3 separate regions of the Homo sapiens genome follow, and regions 1 and 2 are each linked to region 3. The links come from fine-mapping of genetic effects on gene expression. A gene starts in region 3. Each other region holds a variant in brackets. All regions are shown on one strand. Distances are between the middles of the regions.

The links. PIP is the estimated chance that this variant, and not a neighbour inherited with it, causes the effect. A credible set is the group of variants that fine-mapping cannot tell apart.
Region 1: its variant is the best candidate, but not a certain one, in a credible set for the expression of VNN2 in whole blood (INTERVAL, PIP 0.71).
Region 2: its variant is the best candidate, but not a certain one, in a credible set for the expression of VNN2 in monocytes after Pam3CSK4 (Quach 2016, PIP 0.88).

The regions. Positions count from the first base shown.
Region 1 is chr6:132,803,881-132,808,124 of GRCh38, reverse strand. LOC107986644 (a long non-coding RNA gene) reads left to right here. Exons shown (of 3, transcript XR_001744345.3): 2 at 3,174-3,427; 3 at 3,537-3,767. Among named protein-coding and RNA genes, the nearest start is that of SLC18B1, 7.4 kb to the right of the region's middle. The variant A/G (reference allele first, on the strand shown) is at 2,512.
Region 2 is chr6:132,716,975-132,721,218 of GRCh38, reverse strand. No RefSeq gene overlaps it. Among named protein-coding and RNA genes, the nearest start is that of VNN1, 5.0 kb to the right of the region's middle. The variant T/C (reference allele first, on the strand shown) is at 2,343.
Region 3 is chr6:132,755,444-132,759,687 of GRCh38, reverse strand. It overlaps VNN2 (vanin 2), which reads left to right and starts at 1,784. Exons shown (of 7, transcript NM_004665.6): 1 at 1,784-2,017; 2 at 2,142-2,272; 3 at 3,653-3,845. The coding sequence starts at 1,805.

The DNA.
Region 1 (4,244 bases), 48 kb before region 3:
AAGATTTGAATAATACTGTATCAGTGATAATTCTTTGCATGCAATGGAATGAGCTGTGGCCAACATTTAAAAAATGAATTTATTAGAAATGTACTGGATGGCTCAGAGAACAGAACAGTTTGTTTGAGCAGTCAGGTCTAGGGAATAGTAAGAATAGAACAGTTTGTTTGAGCAGTCAGGTCTAGGGAATGGTAAGAATAGAACGGTTTGTTTGAGAAGTCAGGTCTAGGGAATGGTAGGAATGGAATAGTTCCAGGGGTCTTGGTTATAGGACCTGATCAAAAGCCTCTTAAGGCAGTGCTTTATAAAATGACTATCAGAGGATTTTTCACCCAATCCATCAAAGATTATTAGTTTAATAAAATACAACAAATATTAATTACTAGGAGGTTCTGCAAGACTAACCTTCTTGCAGATAACTAATGTAACTCTGAAAATGTTACAAAACAAAACAAAAAATAACTACCTGAAGACACTGGAGAGTGACCAAAAGCAGACGGAACTAGGGGATAGGTGTGAGGACCAACACTAAGAAGAAGGAATGACACTGGATGATTTTCCATTTTTATGAGTGTTAGCACGAGGAGACCCTTAGTCAGTGCTACACGGAACAACTAATAGAGTTCCTCAGTTGTAATGCCTTAAAAAAACCAGAGAACAGAGTTCTATTAGTCAGTGTTCTCTAGAAGGACAGAACTAATGGAATATATATTATATTTTATATATATTCCATATATATAAAATATAATATATATTCTCTATATATATATATGTATATGTATATTTTTTGAGACAGAGTTTTGCTGTGTTGCCCAGGCTGGAGTGCAATGGCATGATCTTGGCTCACTGCAACCTCCGCCTCTTGGGTTCAAGCAATTCTCCTGCCTCAGCCTCCTGAGTAGCTGGGATTACAGGCATGCGCCACCACGCCTGGCTAATTTTTATATTTTTAGTAGAGACGGGGTTTCACCATGTTGGCCAGTCTGGTCTCAAACTTGTAACTTCAGGTGGTCCACACACGTCAGCCTCCCAAAGTGCTGGGATTACAGGCATGAGCCACTGCACCCGACCCATATATAAGGTGAGTTTATTAAGTATTAACTCACACAATCACAATGTCCCACAATAGGCCATCTGCAGGTTGAGGAGCAAGGAGAACCAGTCTGAGATCCAAAACTGAAGAACTTGGAGTCCGATGTTCAAGGGCAAGAAGCATCCAGCATGGGAGAAAGATATAGGCTGAGAGGCTAAGCCAGTTTCTCTTTTCACATTTTCTACCTGCTTATATTCTAGCCACACTGGCAGCTGATTAGATTGTGCCCACCCAGATTAAGGGTGGGTCTTCCTTTTCCGGCCCACTGACTCAAATGTTAATCTCCTTTGACAACACCCTCACAGACACACCCAGGATCAATACTTTGTATCCTTCAATCCAGTCAAGTTGACACTCAGTATTAACCATCACAAGAGTTCAGAATAACCATGGCACTGGAAATTGAAGAAAGGAGGGAAATCCCAGAAAGGAGAGAGCCAGAGAGGGGAAAACCAGAATTTTCCGTGTATACTCTGCCTCAATCTCTGGCTGAGCTCTGAACTACACACACATGGGGTAGCACAGTGGCTTATGCCTGTAATCCCAGCACTTTGGGAGGCTGAGGTGGGTGGATCACAATGTCAGGAGTTCAAGACCAGCCTGACCAACATGGTGAAACGCCGTCTCTACTAAAAATAAAAAAAATAGCCAGGCATGGTGGCGCATCCCTGTAATCCTAGCTACTCAGGATGCTGAGGCAGGAGAATTACTTGAACCCAGGAGGTGGACGTTGCAGTGAGCTGAGATTGTGCCATTGCGCTCCAGCCTGGGTGACAGAGCGAGACTCCATGTTAGAAAAAAGAAAAAGAAAAAAAAACCTCCAAGCAACACAGGTAAGGCTAAACAAAATGCACAGAGATTACAGCTGCTGCTTTTCCCATCACTGGAGAAACATGAAGTTTGAGTCAAGGCAGGTAAACTCTCTGCTAAATTCTTTTTTAAAATTAATATTCTTTGGAAGAATGTAACAGAATCCAGAATCTCTGCAATGTATCATTAACAATGTCTTCGATATGATCCAAAATTATGCTGTATACCAAAAAACTAGAAAACATGACTCATACTCAAGAGAAAAGGATCCCAAGATGATCATATGTTAGAAGTAGCAGACAAGAATTTTAAAGCAGCCATTAAAAATATGATTAAGAATGTAAAAAATGTTCATAATGAATGAATAAATAGGAAAAGTATAAACCATAAAAGAGTATCAAATAGATATTCGAAAACTAAAAAGTAAAATATGAGAAATAAAAAATTTACTGGAAGGGTTCAGCAATAGATTGGAGATGATGAAAGAGTCAGTAAACTTTAAATAAATCCGAAATTATCCAATAGAGAGGGAAAAAGCCAATTGAAAAAAAAATGTATAGAGCTGCAATGATCTGTTGGGCAAAATTTAAAGGTCTAACATATACTCA[A/G]TTAGAATACACAAGACTAACATATAGGCAGTTGGGGTGCCAGAAGGCAACAAAATGAGGGAGGAAACAATATTTAAAGAAATAAGACTGGGCACAATGGCTCACACCTGTAATCCCAACACTTTGGGAGGCCGAGGTGGGCGGATCACCTGAAGTCAGGAGTTTGAGACCAGCCTGACTAACTTGGTTAAACTCCATCTCTACTAAAAATACAATATTAGCTGGGCATGGTGGAGCATTCTTGTAATCTCAGCTACTCAGGAGGCTGAGGCAGGAGACTCGCTTAAAACCTGGAAGGCAGAGGTTGCAGTGAGCCAAGATCATGCCATTGCACTCCAGCCTGGGCAACAAGAGTGAAATTCCATCTAGAAGAAAAGAAAAAGAAAAAGACAGAGACAGAGAGAGAGAAAGGAGAGAGAGAGAGAAAGAAAGAAAATAATGTTCAAAAGCTTCCCACATTTGGTGAAACACATAAATTCAGATTCAAGAAGCTCAGTGAACCCTGAGAAGAATAAATACACACACGTATACAACCCTAGGCATATCATAAGTGAGATATTAAAACTCAAAGTTAAAATTACAGTGGCATTTATGGGGAAAAAGACACATTACATACAGGAGACCAATAATACAAAATTCCACTAATTTCTCTCAAAAAATAGGAGCCAAATGAAAACAGAACCACATCTTGAAAGGGCTGAAAGACAACTTGCTACCCATATTTCTATATTCAATGAAAGGCTCTTCCAGAATGAAGACAAAATGATGACATTCAGAGCTAAACAAAAACTAACAGAACTCATCACCAGAAGACTCATACTTGAAGAAATGTTACAGAAAGTTACTCATGTCGAAGAAAAATGATATCAGATGGAAAATTTAGATGTTCTAGAAGGAATGAAGAACACTGAAAATGGTAAATATGTGGGTAAATTTCAGACTATTTTTCTTTTTGATTAAATAGTACATATAGCTATCTAAAGTAAAAATTATAATATTGCATGATGAACTTTGTGTCTTCATAGATATAATGCGTATGACAACTAAAGAATGAAGGATGAAGAGAGAAGAGGTGGCTGCTGGGTAAGGCCACCTGTATGAGTCTAACAGTCTGCAAGGTTCTTACATTTTCCATGAAGTGCTACAATATTAATGCTAAGTGGACAAAAAAAATTAAGAATGTGTGTATTGTAATTCCTAAGCAATGACTAAAAATAGTTGAAAGAAATATAGGTAAAATGATAACATACAAATTACAATGGAATTCCAAAATCTCTTTTTTTCTAATTAAGCCAAAATAAGGTAAAAAAAAAAAAAAAAGAAGAAGAAGAAGAAACAAATGAGTAAAAAACAGATGGGAAGATATAAAACAAATAGTAAAATGGTAGACGTAAACCCAACCCCATCAATACTTACCTTATATGTAAGTAGAGTATCTTCTCAAATTAATACATGTTAATACCAGAGGAGGGGAAGTTTTCGACTTGTTTTATGAGTGCAGAATTACTTACTACCAAAGCCTGACAAAAGAAAATAAAAAGAAATTACAGATCAACATTACTCATAAACATAGACAAAAAAAACCTCTAACAAAATATTAGCAAATTGATCCAGCAATATATAAGAAAAGAGAATACATCTTGACCAAGCAAGATTTATCTCAAGAATCCAAAGTTAACATTAGACAATTAGCATTAGACCACTGATCAGTGTAATTTATTAAATTAACAGAA
Region 2 (4,244 bases), 38 kb after region 3:
CTGAGATAGGAGAAAACCGCCCTGTGGCTGGAGGCGAGACATGTTGGCAACAATGCTGCTCTGTTACTCTTTATTACACTCTGGCCTACATGCACATCCAGGCATAGTACCTTCCCTTGAACTTATTTGTGACACGGATTCCTTTGCTCACATGTTTTCTTGCTGACCTTCTCCCCACTATCACCCTGTTCTCCTGCCGCATTCCCCTTGCTGAGATAATGAAAATAGTAATCAATAAATACTGAGGGAACTCAGAGACCGGTACCCATGCGGGTCCTCTGTATGCTGAGCGCCGGTCCCCTGGGCCCACTATTCTTTCTCTATACTTTGTCTCTGTGTCTTATTTCTTTTCTCAGTCTCTTATCCCATCTGACGAGAAATACCCATAGGCATGGAGGGGCTGGTCCCCTTCATCCCTGGTTCAAGTGATTCTCCTGCCTCATCCTCCCAAGTAGCTGGGACTTCAGGCACACGCCACCACATCTGGCTAATTTTTTATATTTTTGGTAGAGATGGGGTTTCATCATGTTGGCCAGGCCAGGCTGGTCTTGAACTCCTGACCTCAAGTGATTTGCTATCCTTGGCCTCCCAAAGTGCTGAGATTACAGGTGTGAGCCACAGGGCCAGCCAAAACAGAAATTTTTTGAAAAATAAATTAGGTCAGCTGGGTGCGGTGGCTCACACCTGTAATTCCAGCACTTTGGGAAGCTGAGGTGGACAGATCACCTGAGGTCAGGAGTTTGAGACCAGCCTGGCCAACACTGTGAAACCCCATCTCTACTAAAAATACAAAAATTAGTTGGGGGTGGTGGTGCGTGCCTGTAATCCCAGCTACTCGGGAGGCTGAGACAGGAGAATCACTTGAATCCAGGAGGCGGAGGTTGCAGTGAGCTGAGACCGCATCATTGCACTCCAGCCTGGGGCAAGAAAAGCAAAACTCCGTCTCAAAAAATAAATAAATAAATAAATAAATAAATAAATAAATAAAATAAATTATGTCGTTCAGATCACATCTCATTTCCTTCTGAAATTATTCTGTTCTGAAATCTACCCAATCTTGGTTGAGCCCTTCTCAGTGGTCAGGGGTTTATTGCAGGCTGTGCCAGGCTGGGAGCTTCCTAGACAGGACCACCATGTCACCTTTTCCCCAGATACCTCTGGCCCACTGTCTTGGCTCTCTTAGTCATTTTTCTGGTTGGTCACTGATTAACTCTGGAAAGAGATATGCTGAAGAGCAGCTGGGTTCTCTGGGTTATGTAGGAGACACCTCTTTGTCCACAGAATGTTTGACAAACGCATTTCTGAACTTTTCCTAGGTGTTTATTTCCACCTGCTATAATTCAGTCCAGTACCAGTAAGTCAGAGATATTCTGGGTGGCAGAAAATGCACTCGGTTTCCCCCTCCCATTTTTCCTGGATTCTCTCTTCAGGGACTATCACTCTCGGATCTTAGGTTTGTGCCCCCGATTCCTCTGTGTGCAGTAGGTGGGCATCTTCCCTCTTTATCGCCTTACATTTGTTCCTTCTAGAATTCTTTCTTCTCTTTCCTAAGCCAGTTGTCTGTAGGCTGCATTATGTACTCTGGTTGCCCCAGCTTCCTTGGCACCTCTCACCTCATGGCATTTTTATGTAAGCTGACTCCTGCCCCCCTCTTTATTAAAAGGAACTTTAAAATCAAATCTCGGGGCAGGCTACCATAACTCACACCTGTAATCTCAGCACTTTGGAAGGACAAAGCAGGCAGATGGCTTGAGCCAAGGAGTTTGAGACCAGCCTGGACAATATGGCAAAACCCTGTCTCTACAAACAATAACAACAACAGCAAATTAGCCGAGTATGCTAGTGTGATCCCAGCTACTGGAGAGGCTGGGGTGGGAGGATCACTTGAGCTCAGGAGTTGGAGGATTACTTGAGCCCAGGAGATAGAGGCTGCAGTGAGCCAAGATTGTACCACTGCCCTCCAGCCTGGGCAATAGAGTGAGACCTTGTCTAAAAAAAAAAAAGTCAAATCTCATGGTCAGTTCTCAGCTCTTACTAAGCCTGTACTTCTTGGAGTAATTTTACCCCCCACACTTTAATGCCTTTCGCTTTTTATTTTCGTTGACCTTTTTGTCTCTTCTCCCTCCTCCAACCACATTTATTTTGTTTGTCATTGATATAAATGATGCACTCTGCTAGACTCAGCTCTCACAGCTGTATCTTCCTTATCTAAAATCTTTCTATGGATAGTGAAGCCACTCTTATGGCTTTAATTAATATTTCTGATACAGCAGAGTATAACTCACTGGTAAACAAAAAAATTTTTTCTTTCATGAGAGCAAGTTCAAGCCACATCATCATGT[T/C]TACAGGCTACATTAACAATGCAAAAATAGTTTTATTAAGTCCTATGCAGAGATATGTATTATTGTAACATTAGCAACTTGTGATATTACAGTTCCTGGCTTATAACTCCCATATCCTTTGTTAGGGTTTTTTTTTTGTTTGTTTGTTTGTTTTAACATTAGGGGGTTTTAGGCCTCAGGAGCAGGCCTCATGAAACAGAATCTCCCTCTCTGACCTTACCCTGTCCTCCCTTTACCTACCTAAGGCAGGACTATAATCTGATTGTGGCTCAAAAGACCCTCATTTCAGAGAGGGTCCCACCCCATACCCTAGAGGAAGAAATGCTATAAAGAGATGTCAAGACAAACCTGAACAGACAAGCTTTACTGGGTTTCCCCACTCAAACTGTTAGTATGGGATCATAACCTTTTTGTCCAATCGCATTTCTACATGGTTGTCAATCGTGACTATGTAATGAAGCTTCCATAAAAACCCAAAAGGACAGGGTTCGGAGAGTTTCCTTACAGCTGAACACGTGGAGGGTTCCTGGAGGGTGGCACACCTAGGGGTGCGTGGAAGGCTCTCCAGTCCTTCCCCCATACCTTGCTCTATGCACCTCTTCATTTGTATCCTTTGTAATATCCTTTACAATAAGCCACTAAAGGTAAGTGTTTCCCTGAGTTCTGTGAGCCACTCTAGCAAACTAATTGAACTAAAAAAAAAAGGGGTCATGGAAACCCCAACCCAGAGCCATTTGGTCGGAAGATCTGGAAGCCCAGACTTGTTACTGGTGGGAAGGAGGGGGCGGTTTTGTGGGACTGAGCCCTTAACATGTGGGATCTGATGCTATCTTTGGATAAATAGTATTTGGATTGAACTGGAAGATAGCCAGCTGATGTCTGATGCAGAGTCAATTGCTTGCTTTCTAGTGGGGAGAAATCTCCACCTACTTGGGAGTAACCAGTCTTTTGTGTTAGTTGTTGTGCTATGAGACCAGAGGAAAAATGGATTGTTTCTCCTAAAACCAGATTAATGTCAACAAAAGAATTGACATTGTGTTGTAGCCACTAAATATTAAAATATGGGCGTATATTTTGAGTAGCAATGCAGAGGCCGACTGCCAATCAATCTTTTATCAGACACAAGTATATGGACACACTTTTACATGCTGTGCACATGGCTTTTCAGAGTTCACCAGGTGAAGTGCAAGAGGCAGTGCCCACTCCACTCAGTCCTTGCTCTTCCCTCCTTTTCCCTTGTTTCTGGTTCTCTCTGCGTAAGCTGGGCAGGACTTGCTTCTGAGTTCCTCTGGGGACCTGCTGCCTGGGGTGGGGTGATCACTGCTGTGCTAGCAAAATCCAGAATACTGTGGGTCTTGCCCTATTCTGGACAGTGCGATGTCATGTTTTCCTTGCAAAAGGCAATCTGCTCCATCTATGCAAGTTTGGTTGGAGGAGTCTGGAGGTATCAATTAGGGCTTTTGTCTACACTCAAAGTCATTTCCTTGGAGACAATTCTCCCAGTTTCTACTTTGTGTGAGCAGAAGGGCTGCATTTGGGGACCTTGGCTGGCTGTAGCAGTAGGGTTAAGGATCCAGAGAACCAGCCTAGGAGTTGTAGTAGAGGCTGCTGGTGCCTCCCAGTTCCATGTCCTGCTGATGATACTCTACTGCAAGAACTGCACTGTTTCTATTTCTATTTCTTTCTTTCTTTCTTTCTTTTTTTTGAGACGGAGTCTCACTCTATCACCAAGCTGGAGTGCAATGGCGCAATCTCGGCTCGAGGCAACCTCCGCCTCCCGGGTTCAAGCAATTTTCCTGCTTCAGCCTCCCGAGTATCTGGATTATAGGCGCCCCCGCCCCCCACACTGCTCCCTTCCATGCCCAGCTAATTTTTGTATTTTTAGTAGAGACAGGGTTTCTC
Region 3 (4,244 bases):
TTCTTAACAAAACATTTATCTCAGTAAGAAGGAAAGCACAGAATAAACTTTGTTTAATCGTACCTACTCTTCTATGCTGTCTAAAAGCATTTCCGTGACTTTTACCAAAGGGCTGGATAAAAATAAAACAAATCCTTTATTTGGCAGGATTGGGCCTGGGGAAGGGAGAATATGAATGTCCTAAGAAGGCATCTGAGATCACATCCTGTATTTGTTGTTATTATTGTTTTTTTTTTTTTTTTTTTTTTTGAGACGGAGTTTCGCTCTGTCGCCCAGCCTGGAGCGCAATGGTGTGATCTCAGCTCACTGCAGCCTCTGCCTCCTGGGTTCCAGCGATTCTCCTGCCTCAGCCTCCCGAGTAGCTGGGATTACAGGCGCCCACCACCACGACCAGCTACTTTTTGTGTTTTTGGTAGAGATGGGGGGTTCCACTATGTTGGCCAGGCTGGTCTTGAACTCCTGACCTCAGGTGATCTGCCTGCCTCGGCCTCCCAAAGTGCTAGGATTACAGGCATGAGCCACTGCACCTGGCCTGTTAGCATTGTTTTTAAACTCATTGTTGTTATTTGCTGCTAACAAAAATGTAAGTTACATCTTCTCCTTATTACAACACAGATGATCTTTATCACCAATCCTGGACTCTTCCCCTTCCCTGGCATCTTCCTCCAAAGCAGGGGGTGGGGAGGGAGGAAAAAGAAGGAGGAGAAGGAGTAGGAGGAGAAGGAGAAGTAGGGGGAGGATGGGGAGGGAAGGGTGAAAGAGAGAAAGAAGGAAAGAAGCGGAGTATCCTGAGGCCTGGGGCCCCTGAGCTGAGATTCCTCCTCTGGCCTAGGTGCCTCGGGGTATTGTTGCTGTAGGCACTAACTATACAGCAGTGAACAAACCAGACACAAAATCCTGCTTTTCTGGAGCACATGTTTTCAGTCCTTAATAGCAATAAGTAAGTCAGAGTGTAGATTTGGGTAAATTTTGTTATCAATATTGTCCTGTGTTACATTTTCTTAGTAGTAAGTATTTAATATTTTCCCCCCCGTCTAAAAATAAACACAATGTAAGTGACTCAACAGAACCAAAAAAATTGTTGTCAATTTTTAAATTTAATAAATGAGATATTTGTTGGGATGTGATTTTTTTACACGAGAGTTAGTTATGAGTTTCTATTAACAAAAGCTGGAATTGTTCTATATTTGAATTCGGGTGTCTTTTGGAAATTCAATATTAAATCTTAGTACTAATAGTACATGCTGTTCAATCCCTGTAATACTTTCTGATTGTCTTAAATGGACTGCAACTTTTCTTTCTTTAAAAGTGGTCAGATATATTGCGTTCTTAAGATTATAAAGTAGGCCAAGTGCAGTGGCTCACGCCTGTAATCCCAGCACTTTGAGAGGCTGAGGTGGATGGATCACAAGATCAGGAGTTTGAGACCAGCCTGGCCAATATTGTGAAACCCCATCTCTACTAAAAATACAAAAATTAGCTGGACGTGGTGGCGCGCACCTGTAGTCCTAGCTGTTTCAGAGACTGAAGAAGGACAATCGCTTGAACCTGGGAGGTGGAAGTTGTAGTGAGCTGAGCTTGCGCCACTGCATTCCAGCCTGGGTGACAGAGCAAACTCCGCCTCAAAAAAAAAAAAAAAAAAAAAAAAGAAGAAGAAGAAGAAGAAGAAGAAGAAGAAGAAGAAGAAAAATGATGATAAAGTAAAAGGCCAGTAACTGGCAGCCACATGTTATGCAAACATTCTCCCCTCTGTAAATACTACATGAATGTTATTTTTGCTTTCAGAAATCACTAAACCTTGGCCATGGTCACTTCCTCTTTTCCAATCTCTGTGGCAGTTTTTGCCCTAATAACCCTGCAGGTTGGTACTCAGGACAGTTTTATAGCTGCAGTGTATGAACATGCTGTCATTTTGCCAAATAAAACAGAAACACCAGTTTCTCAGGAGGATGCCTTGAATCTCATGAACGAGAATATAGACATTCTGGAGACAGCGATCAAGCAGGCAGCTGAGCAGGTATTCTCTTATTTCTGTTAATCATAATGTACACGAGGGGCATGGGAGCTGGTGGAAGACGAGAGAGCTGAATTGTCTGTGTTGTACATGGAAAAATCATTTTTATTTTGCTTGTTTTGAACAGGGTGCTCGAATCATTGTGACTCCAGAAGATGCACTTTATGGATGGAAATTTACCAGGGAAACTGTTTTCCCTTATCTGGAGGATATCCCAGACCCTCAGGTGAACTGGATTCCGTGTCAAGACCCCCACAGGTATTTTAACTATCTTAGTCTTTTGTGCAAAAGTAACTCTCTAAAATGCGCACGTTCACCAAAGCAAAATGATTGCTCTTGAATTACCATATATGTGGTATATGTTATGGTTATATTTATCTCAACATTTGTCAGATTTTAAAAAATTGTACTTAGATACTATTTAACAATCTTTTGTGATTGAAAATCTTTATTAAATTTTGAGAAAATGTGTAAATAGGGTATTCCTGCAAGAAAAACTAAGGGAAGAGATCTCATAGATACAAGTAGTAACTTAATTTCTGAAGTAGACAGTGGATTGTGTTAGGAATACATTCCAAAGCCTCTGCTGAAGGGACACCCTTTCAATGTTATAGAGTCTCTCCATTCCAGAGTTGCTTCTTAGGCAGAAAGACTTCACCATGTATTTTCAAGTGAATCATAAGACCTTATGCTTTGAAACTGCATTTTCCTAGGCTCACAAATCTAATTTTCCTGGGAAAAGGTTATCTAGAAACCTTCTAATATATATTAAAAATCTGGGTCCTACTGTCATCCTGGAGGTGTCAACGTGGCAGTTGCATGGACAAGTCTGGCATGAAAAGACAAAATTATATCTGGAGATAGAAAATCAAATGTCAGCATATAGATGGTGTTAAACACCATGATGAGTTCACCTGTGGAGTGAGTTAGAGAAGAGTTTAGGTATAAGGCTTGAGCACTAGGAAATTCTAGTGTTTAGACTCGGAAGAAAACGAGGAATCAGCAGAAGAGTCGAAGAAGAGCAACCAATAAATAGGAAAATGAGAGGGTGGGTCCAATAGAGAAGTGAGGTGTTTCCAGAAGGAGGTGTAATTAACTGTGCCAACTGCTGTTGAAAAGTTAAGATGAGATCAGGTAAAATGTGGGGGTCACTGCTGGCATTAGTAAGAGTTTGGGTGATAGAGATACAAGTTGGAGTGCTCTGAAAGGGAATGGGAGAGGAGGAACTGGCAACAGCAAGAGGGACTGATCTTTTGAGGAGTTTTGCTTTAAGAGAGAGATGAGGATTAAAGCAATATTTGGAAGGGCATGTTTGGAAAGGTCAAAAGAGGTTTTAATTTTATTTTTTAAAGATGGGAGGTACTAGAGGATATTTCATTGCTGATGGGATGTTTCAGTAGAGAGGAGACCCTTGATGAGGCAGGAGACCGAATAATGAATTTCTGGAGCAATAGATACCGTGTGGGAAGCATTCATCAAGTGTATAATCATCTGTGGCTTTTAAAGTATGATATTTTTAGGCATAGTTTTTGTATTAACTTAAGTTCCACTTAAGTGGTTACAGTTGCTATCGTTTCCATATAAAGTGACTAAAATATTTTTTTAAAATTGAAATTTCTTAATTATAATTTGGTTTAGATTTGGTCACACACCAGTACAAGCAAGACTCAGCTGCCTGGCCAAGGACAACTCTATCTATGTCTTGGCAAATTTGGGGGACAAAAAGCCATGTAATTCCCGTGACTCCACATGTCCTCCTAATGGCTACTTTCAATACAATACCAATGTGGTGTATAATACAGAAGGAAAACTCGTGGCACGTTACCATAAGGTAAGAGAGAGTGACGGACGTGTAAAATGGAGCGTGTTGTGAGTGGTCAATGCTGGGTTTAGGAGTTTGAATTTCATTCCCTATATGATACAATATTACTAGAGGGTTTTTTTGTTTTGTTTTGTTTTTTGTTTTTTGAAAGTGGGCAATAAAGAAAATGACACTTTTGGCTGGGCGTGGAGGCTTATGCCTGTAAGCCCAGCACTTTGGGAGGCTGAGGCAGGTGGATCACTTGAGGCCAGGAATTTGAGACCAGTCTGGCCAACATTGTGAAACCCCGTCTCTACTAAAAAATACAAAAATTAGCGGGGCGTGATGGCACATGCCTGTAGTCCCAGCTATGTGGGAGCTGAAGCAGGAGACTTGCTTGAACCCAGGAGGTGGAGGCTGCAGTGAGCC